Regions from separate parts of the Homo sapiens genome. Here all the other regions are linked to region 2. The links come from fine-mapping of genetic effects on gene expression. A gene starts in region 2. Each other region holds a variant in brackets. All regions are shown on one strand. Distances are between the middles of the regions. Region 1 overlaps ZC3H3 (zinc finger CCCH-type containing 3). Region 2 holds the start of GSDMD (gasdermin D). Region 3 has its middle 12 kb from the start of MAFA-AS1.

The links. PIP is the estimated chance that this variant, and not a neighbour inherited with it, causes the effect.
Region 1: its variant is fine-mapped to the expression of GSDMD in whole blood (INTERVAL, PIP 0.92).
Region 3: its variant is fine-mapped to the expression of GSDMD in whole blood (TOPMed, PIP above 0.99).

Annotation. Positions count from the first base shown.
Region 1 is chr8:143,439,094-143,441,841 of GRCh38, forward strand. ZC3H3 (zinc finger CCCH-type containing 3) reads right to left here. Exons shown (of 12, transcript NM_015117.3): 10 at 1,843-2,027; 11 at 948-1,270. Among named protein-coding and RNA genes, the nearest start is that of MAFA, 9.7 kb to the left of the region's middle. The variant T/TGAG (reference allele first, on the strand shown) is at 1,123.
Region 2 is chr8:143,556,974-143,559,680 of GRCh38, forward strand. GSDMD (gasdermin D) reads left to right here and starts at 1,373. Exons shown (of 11, transcript NM_024736.7): 1 at 1,373-1,478; 2 at 2,359-2,579. The coding sequence starts at 2,363. LOC100310756 (a long non-coding RNA gene) reads right to left here and starts at 1,298. Exons shown (of 1, transcript NR_147504.1): 1 at 1-1,298. RefSeq lists an enhancer at 1,188-1,829.
Region 3 is chr8:143,395,120-143,397,867 of GRCh38, forward strand. No RefSeq gene overlaps it. Among named protein-coding and RNA genes, the nearest start is that of MAFA-AS1, 12 kb to the right of the region's middle. The variant G/A (reference allele first, on the strand shown) is at 1,504.

The sequences.
Region 1 (2,748 bases), 120 kb before region 2:
GGTTCCTGATCTTAAAAAAAAAAAAAAATACAAGTCGCTGCCTCGGGGCCCCATCTGCTCCCCGACCCCAGAGAGGCCCACCCAGATGGAGGGAGCGGGTGCCCAGGTCTCGTGGGGCGGAGGGTCTGGCCACGGCTCCACGCCCCTGACGTGGAGGCTGTGAACAGGAGGCGGCCCCTCCGAGGCAGGCATTTGAGTGTGCTCAGCGGAGCTGTTGCAGAAGGCTGCAGCAAGCATCTTCCATTAACGTTACGACCGTGAAATATGACAATAAAATGATAGCCGTATGGTCGCAAATTTGCAGCCCGCCGAGCTGCGTGGGGTTTATCGTCACTCAAACGCGCGGAGAGCTGTAAAATGTTTACAGAAAGGGTCGTTTGCAGCCATAAAATCCTCTTTTCTCTCCTAAACAAGGCTGAGTGGAGCCATTTACCAAGCCCCAAATGCTCATCGGGGGAGAGGGAACATCTGTTCTCTCCAGGAGTGCGTGGTGATCTTCCAGAACAAATTAACAGAAATGGGTGCTTTCTAATTAAATCAGCCCTCAGCTGGGGCAGACTGCGCAGCGGCCACCGCTACACTCGCACCTTGGCTGGCCCTGCCCCAGGGCTGGCAGGTGCACCCCTGGCGCCCGTGGGACTCACCCAGGCCCCACCTGGAGATTCTGACGTGGTGGTCTGAGGGGGCATTTAAAGCTCCCCTGTGCCCGAGCCCGGCCATGCTGCCTACCTGAGCCCTTGGTGAGGGGGGCCCTGGGGGCCTGAGCCAGGCCATGCTGCCTACCTGAGTCCTTGGTGAGGGAGGCCCTGGGGGCCCGAGCCAGGCCATGCTGCCTACCTGAGTCCTTGCTGAGGGGGGGGCCCTGGGGGCCTGAGCCAGGCCGTGCTGCCTACCTGAATCCTTGGTGAGGGGGGCCCTGGGGGCCCGAGCCAGGCCGTGCTGCCTACCTGAGTCCTTGGTGAGGGGGGCCCTAGGGGCCCGGACCCTGGGCTGGGCTCCTGGGCTCGGCGAGGACTGCAGGGAGATGAAGGAAGGCAGCTTGCAGAGCCTGTTGGAGCACGCTGCTGCTAAGGCAGCCTCCTGGAGAGATGGTGCCTCGTGGTCCAAGGAAGCGGGAGGGGA[T/TGAG]GAGGAGGAGGAGGAGGAGGAGGAAGCCTTCGAGGATGAGGGAGAGGCTGACCCCCCTGGGCAGTGGGGAGGTGCAGCCACGGCAGCCGCAGTGAGGGCAGCCGAGCTGGGCGTCTGCCTGGTGGGGCGCTGGGATGCTGAAGGCTTCCTGCAGGGAAGGAAGGGGCAGACGTGTGAGGTGGGGTGACGGGTGGGGATCCCAGCGACAGACTGCCCATGCTCTTGGCTGCTTCCTGCTCCCGTGGCCCTCCGTGGTCTCAGGGCAGAGCTGGAGGCACAGGTCAGGCCTGGCCCTTGGCCGCAAGGACAGGCTGGGTGCAGGGATGGCCCCAGCTCCACACCGAGCCTGCCCCTCACATCCAGGGCCTTGGCTTCCTGGTCTCCATGGGGCTCCACACCCACATGGCAGGTGGGCTGGATGAGGGGGCCCCCAGACTCCTCCCGGGGCTGGGCCTCCCACCCGGTCCCAGTGAGCAGGTCTCTGTGAGGCCCCACCTTCCTCCATTGGCCAGGGATGCCCTTGGCTCTGTCCAGACTTGGAAGTGGGGTAGGGGCATCTCTGGAGGTCATGTGATCCCCAGCCTTGGATAGGGATTTCTTTCTGGTCTGAGGCCCAAAGAGCTGGAGTTGGCGGGAGCTCAACCAGAGGGCCCCGGGCATCTCCCCAGACAGGGAGGGGGCCACCCAGGCTCACATGCACAGTGCCCACTGCCCCATCACCTGGGCCCGTGGCTGGCCGAGACCCTGCTCCTGGCGGTTGCGTCGCTGGGCCCTGGGGCGGGGGACGTGGCTGCCCGCCGACTGTGGCGTTTCTGGGTACGGTGGAGCAGCTGGCACTGGGCGCCGCGGGGACACGCCCCCCTGCGGGCAAAGTCGGGGCACAGCAGCGTGTGTTTCTTCTTGCACTGCAGAGAGAAGGGGTGCAGGTGGGTGGGCCGGCTGGAGGCTGTGGCGCTGCACGGGGAAGGCAAGGAGAGCCAGGCCAGGCCCCCCGAGTACCCACGGGGCCCCATAGGCTCCGTCCAAGTCTTGGGGCCAAAGGCTTCCTCTTGGAAGGCTGAGGCCACCAGTCCAGAGAGGTTCCACCTGGGCCCTCACCCACCCACAAGAGGCCCTCAGCCAACTGTAGGCCCTGGGCACAGACTGAGAGCAGGGCGGGGCTGGGCCAGCGTGGGGACTCCCAGAGCCTGCAGCCAGGCCATGGCTCAGGGCTCTGCCCACCCGCTGCCTCTGCCAGACCCCAGCCAGCCCATCCTGGCAGCACAGAGGGAGCCCGGGAAGGTGGGTGTGGCTAGAGACCTGGGGGTCTTAGGCTGGGCCGGGAGAGGGTGGGGCAGGTCAGCCAAGGCCAGGCTGCACTGGGTCAGGGCTGGGCTGGGCTGGGCACGCGATCCCTAGCACCTGTCACAGTGCTAATTATACCCACAGGGCAGGGGGTGTGCCAGCCAGCAGGTGCTCTGGGCAGCAACATGGCCCCAGCTCTCCTACCAGGCCCACAGGGAAACACAAAGAGGCTGCCCAAGGCCCCAGCGGCCCAGCCTGGCCTGTGGTGCAGGGCGCCCAGCCTGCCCTTCCTCTGCCCACCCCTCCCGGGCTCTGCTCTGCAGCCCAGCTGCCTGCCTGCCT
Region 2 (2,707 bases):
AAGAAACCCCAAACCAGCAACCGTCGCTCCCAACCCCCGTCCCGGGCACCGGCAGCGCCATCTCCCTTCTTCCCTCTGGACGTGCCCATTCGGGACACATCACGTGAGCAGGATCACGCCGTCCGCTCCGTGTGCCTGGCTTTTCACTTAGCATGATGTCTCCAAGTCTGTGTCGCCCGTCTGTGTCGCCCAGTGCATCAGGGTCTCATTCCTTTTGACCGTGGGCGCCGTTCTACGGCCTGGATTCCAGTGCCTGGACTGGCCATGTTTAGTCTATGCACGCCTCAGTGGATGGACAGGGTTTCCACCTTGCCGCTATGGCGAAGGATGCTGCCGCTATGGCGAAGGATGCTGCCGCTATGGTGAAGGATGCTGCCGCTTTGGCGAAGGATGCTGCCGCTATGGCGAAGGATGATGCCGCTGTGACGACAGCTGCTGCCGCTGTGGCGAAGGATGCTGCCGCTGTGACGACGGATGCTGCCGCTATGATGAAGGATGATGCCGCTGTGACGACGGATGCTGCCACTATGGCGAAGGATGCTGCCGTGAACTTTGGTGCACAGGCATCTGTTTGCGTCTTTGCTTTCAATTCCTGTGGGTGGAGCTAGGAGTGGAATTGCTGGGTCACACGGTAACTCTTGGAGGAGCTGCCAGGCTTATTCCAGAGGGCCGCACGGGTTGACATTCCCACCAGCATTGCACAAATGTTCCAGTGACTCCACGTGCCCCCCGCGCTGGTTATTCACCTTTAGTAATACGACCATCTTTGTCAGTGTGCAGTATCTCTCTGTGGATTCCATTTGCATTTCCTTGATGACTAAGGGTGTTGAGCATCTTTGCATTTGCTTGAGGGCAATTTCTACATTTTGTACATCTTTGGAAGATCTGCCCAGACCCTTCGGCACAGGCCCAAAGTTGTTTGTTTGCTTGTTTGTTTTTGAGACGGAGTCTCACTCTGTCGCCCAGGCTGGAGTACAATGGCATGATCTCGGCTCACTGCAACCTACACCTCCCAGGTTCAAGCGATTCTCTTGCCTCAGCCTCCCAGGTAGCTGGGATCACAGGCATGCGCCACCACGCCGGGCTAATTTTGTATTTTTAGTAGAGACGGGGTTTCACCATGTTGGTCAGTCTGGTCTTGAACTCCCGACCTCAGGTGATCCGCCCGGGCACAGGCTCAGAGTTTTAAGAAAAACCACAAAGTGCTATGAAGTTTGAGGCTACCAGGATGGGGCGCCAAGCCAAGGTTCCTCCGGACGCGCGAGGCTGGTGCTCCAGGCGGGCTGGCGGGAAGAGGGGGCAGGAAGGGGGCCGGGGCGGGCTCTCCGGGACGGTTCCGGGAGGGCGTCCTGGGCGGGCCCTGCGTCAGGTTGCAGTTTCACTTTTAGCTCTGGGCACCTCCAGCTCCTGCTCGCCGGACGGCTCCCAGGGAGAGCAGACGCGCCAGACGCGCCACCCTCGGGGCGCCGACGGTCACGGTGAGCTGCGCCCCGCCCCCTCCCCCGGCCTGGCTGGAGCTCCCGAGTGGGGCCGGCCGCTGGCTCCCGGGTGGGGGATGCTGGCCCTGCTGCCCCAGCGTTCGCCCAGAAGGCCCCGCGCCGCACACGGGGGCGGAAGCTCCAGGCTTCGGGAAAGGCTGCCCCTGGCCAGCCCAGGGGCCCGGCCTTTGGACCTGGGCTTGGGCTTGACTCCCAGGTCCGCCATCCAGGTTCCCGGGCCGGTGCTGTTCCCGCCCCCAGCTGCCTTCTGGGCCCAGCCTCCACTTTCAGCAGACCCAGCACTCAGAGGCTTCCTGGGGCAGCTGCAGCCCCTCCACAGTGGCCCAGGTGCCCCCTATCCCAGCGGAGGCCCGCTATGGCCTCTGACCCCCAAAGCCTCAGCCTTGGACAGGTGGCTCATGGAGCTCCAGGCACAGAGAAGGCCCTGGAGGACGCAGCTGGGGTGGGGCGACACTCTGGCTGGGTTTTGCAGTGGGTCCCTGGTGACACTCTGGCTGGGTTTTGCAGTGGGTCCCTGCACCACGCTCAGGAGGTGACAGCTTGTTTCCTCCCAGCCAGAGGCAGCCATTCTAGTGGACAGAGCCCTCTGTGTTAGAGCAGGTCTGGGCGTCAGGCCTCACTGTCCCTGGCTGGAGGTGCTCATGGTACCGTAGACAACAGGGAGAACACTGTAATTCTGTGTTGGGGAGGGCCGGGGACAGAAGCTTTCTGCTAGTGGGAGCATCCCAGGATGAGCTGGGCAGGGCTGTTCTGGAGGGAAGGAGTCCCCCATCATGGGAGACATCCAAGTACTGACCCTTCTCCCACTCCCTCCCGCCCGCCCCGAGAGCACAATGCCTGACCCATTTCCCCTCCTCAGGAGCATGGGGTCGGCCTTTGAGCGGGTAGTCCGGAGAGTGGTCCAGGAGCTGGACCATGGTGGGGAGTTCATCCCTGTGACCAGCCTGCAGAGCTCCACTGGCTTCCAGCCCTACTGCCTGGTGGTTAGGAAGCCCTCAAGCTCATGGTTCTGGAAACCCCGTTATAAGTGTGTCAACCTGTCTATCAAGGACATCCTGGAGCCGGATGCCGCGGAACCAGGTGCCTGATGTGGTGCTGAGGCAGAGCCCCAGGGAGGCTGGATGGGAGAGGGGAGCGGGCTGGGGCCAACCATCCACTGGGCTCTGCAGCCTCTAGCTCTGGGCCTCTCTTCCAGAGGCCGGGGCCTT
Region 3 (2,748 bases), 160 kb before region 2:
ACCCAGCTAGCTTTTTTTATTTTTTGTTGAGACAAGGTCTGGTTATGTTGGCCAGTCTGGTCTTGAACTCCTGGGCTCAAGTGATCCTTCTGCCTCAGACTCCTAAAGTGCTGGGATTACAGGCATGAGCCACTGTGCCTGGCTAATTTTAAAAATTTTTTTTAACTTTTTTTTTTTTGAGACGCAGTTTTGCTCGTCGCCCAGGCTGGAGTGCAAAGGCAGATCTCGGCTCACTGCAACCTCTGCCTCCCAGGTTTAAGTGATTCTTCTGCCTCAGCCTCCCAAGTAGCTGAGATCATGTGCCACCACTCCTGGCTAATTTTGTATTTTTAGTAGAGATGGAGTTTCACCATGTTGGCCGGGCTGGTCTCTAACTCCTGACCTCAAGTGATCCGCCCGCCTCAGCCTCCCAAAATGCTGGGGTTATAGGTGTGAGCCACCGCACCCAGCCTAATTTTTTTACTTTATTTCTATCTTTTGTAGAGACAGGGTCTCGCTCTGTTGTCCAGGCTGCGGTAAATCCTTGAATAAGCTTGTGTGTTTCTGGGTGGTGGGTTTTATAATGCACACACCATGTGAGCTCATCTGAACAGATAAGCACTTAAAGAAAAACACACTTGAGACTGGTTTACTACCCACTCTGGGAACCTGGGTCTTTGCTTTCCCTGTAGGAGCCTGGGCCCCAGCCGTCTATTCTGTAAGCCCTCCGTCCCTATGGGCTGGAGGAGTGAGGGGAGCCGCCCGGGGACAAGTCCTTGGTGCACAGGTACCAGGATGGAGCTACCCAAAGGGGAGAAGTACAGTTCTCCCTGGGAAGGGGCAACTGCAGAGGGTTTTGAAGAATGAATAGGAGTTCTTTAGGCTGACTGAGGAAGCTTGAAACAGCATGGTGTGGGGAGTTAGGGAGGAGGGAGAGGAGGTCAGGCAGGCCAGCTCGTGGGGGCTGCAGAATAAGTTTTGGCAGGGCCAGAACTTGGAGCAGGTCGCCTGGTCACTGTGGGGAGTGGGTTGGAAGAGCAGCTGAAAGGTTTCCTAGGACCCTGATACAGCCCTTAGGTCTGTGGGGCTGGACTTGTGCTCCTATTTTAGCACCAGAGAAGTCCAGAGACCTGTGCAGGGTCACATAGCATATGGGACCTGGCTAGGTGGGACCTAGACACTCACCTACTGGCCTGTTCAGGGCTCTCTGTTGAGGCTTGACTTGAAGCCTCCAAGGGCAGGCCCGGCCCCTGCCCCCAGCATCCATCCCTTCCCCACCCTGGCACAGCGTCTGGGGGTGCACAGTGGGGCTGAGAGGAGGCTGGGTGGGCCCTGCCGTGGGGTGGTTGCATTTGGCTGCTCCCCCTCCCCGTGGCTGACTTGTGAGGAGGCTAGGATTGATCCGTTCTTGGAACTGGCGCTTGTGAATATTCCTAAAGAGGAAAATCAATCAATTATCCCAGAGCAGGGCCATTTTTCTAACCGGGAGAACAAGCAGTTTTATGCACCTCGGAAGAGCCTCCC[G/A]GGGTCGATCGTGGCTGGGCCAAGCCAGACGCCCTCTGAATCTCTCCTGGACTGGCGGTGGCCCCTGTCTCTACAGGCAGCCCTCCCGCGGCCTCACTCTGCCCGCTGCCAGGTCAGCATCCCCAGCCTCTGTGTGACAGGGAAGCCCAAAGCCGCCTGCTGGGGCTCCAGGGAGGGAGTTAAGGCCCCTCAGTGACTGGACTGAGGCAGAATTGCTCCTTCTGTTGAGCCCCAAATCCCACTGCCAAGATAGGGTCCCAGGCCTGAGGACCTCCCGCCAACACCAGAGCCCCACGCATGGGGGTGCTCCCACTCCGGCCTGCCCTGTCCCGGACGCCAACCCAGCGAGGGTGCGGAGTGCAGGGCGGGCGCAGACAGCGAAGGCCTGCAGTGGCTGCCTGCCAGGCTGGGAAGCTCCAGTGGCCTGAGGGTCCCAGATTCCACTGCCATCGAGGGAACTCCCTCCCCGCACCCCCAGCATTGACTCCTCTGTTCCAGGAGCTGGACCCTGACTGTATGTGGCGCCTGCCTCCAGCCCTGCTCTTCCCAGAGCCCTCCTGGGTCTGGCCTGGGCCAGGCCTGCCCTCCAGGGACTCCCACAGGGTGCTGGGCGGCAGGGCCCCGCCCATGCCCTTCTGCTCAAACCTTGGGTGCTCTACCCTCCCACTGTCCCCTCCTGGACTGTCACTGTTCCTCCTAGGGGGCAGTGATGGAAGGGGCCCACCTACCCATATGTCCCCTGGTTCCCTCAGTCACCCCGACCCTGGCAGGAGGGTTAGGCTGGCCTCGTGAGCCCCAGGACAGGCTGTCCTGAAACGGTCACCTCCCAAGCCCAGTGTCCCACTCAGAGCTGGGCCTCCATAGAGGACCCCACAGGACGGCTTGATTACTTAAAATTGTGATTACGGTAAAATGTGTTACGATTTCAGCCATCTCTGAGGGTGCACCTGAGTGGTGTGAAGCGCGCCCACATCCTCGTGCCTCCAGAATCTTCCATCTTCCCAAACTGACTCTGTTCCCGTGAAACACTCGCCTCCCCAGCCCCCGTCCCCACCCTGTGAATCGGAGCCTCAGAGCCTTAGGTCACTGGGGTCACAGCATGTGTCCTGTGCCCACCACCTTCGCTCAGCATGGGGTCTCCCCAAGGGGCTCTGGCGAGGGGCGGGCATCCTTCTGGCTGGGCAGGTGGAGGGGCCCCTCACCCAGGAAGGGTGGCGGAAGCCAGAGAGGCCCTGAGGGTGAGGG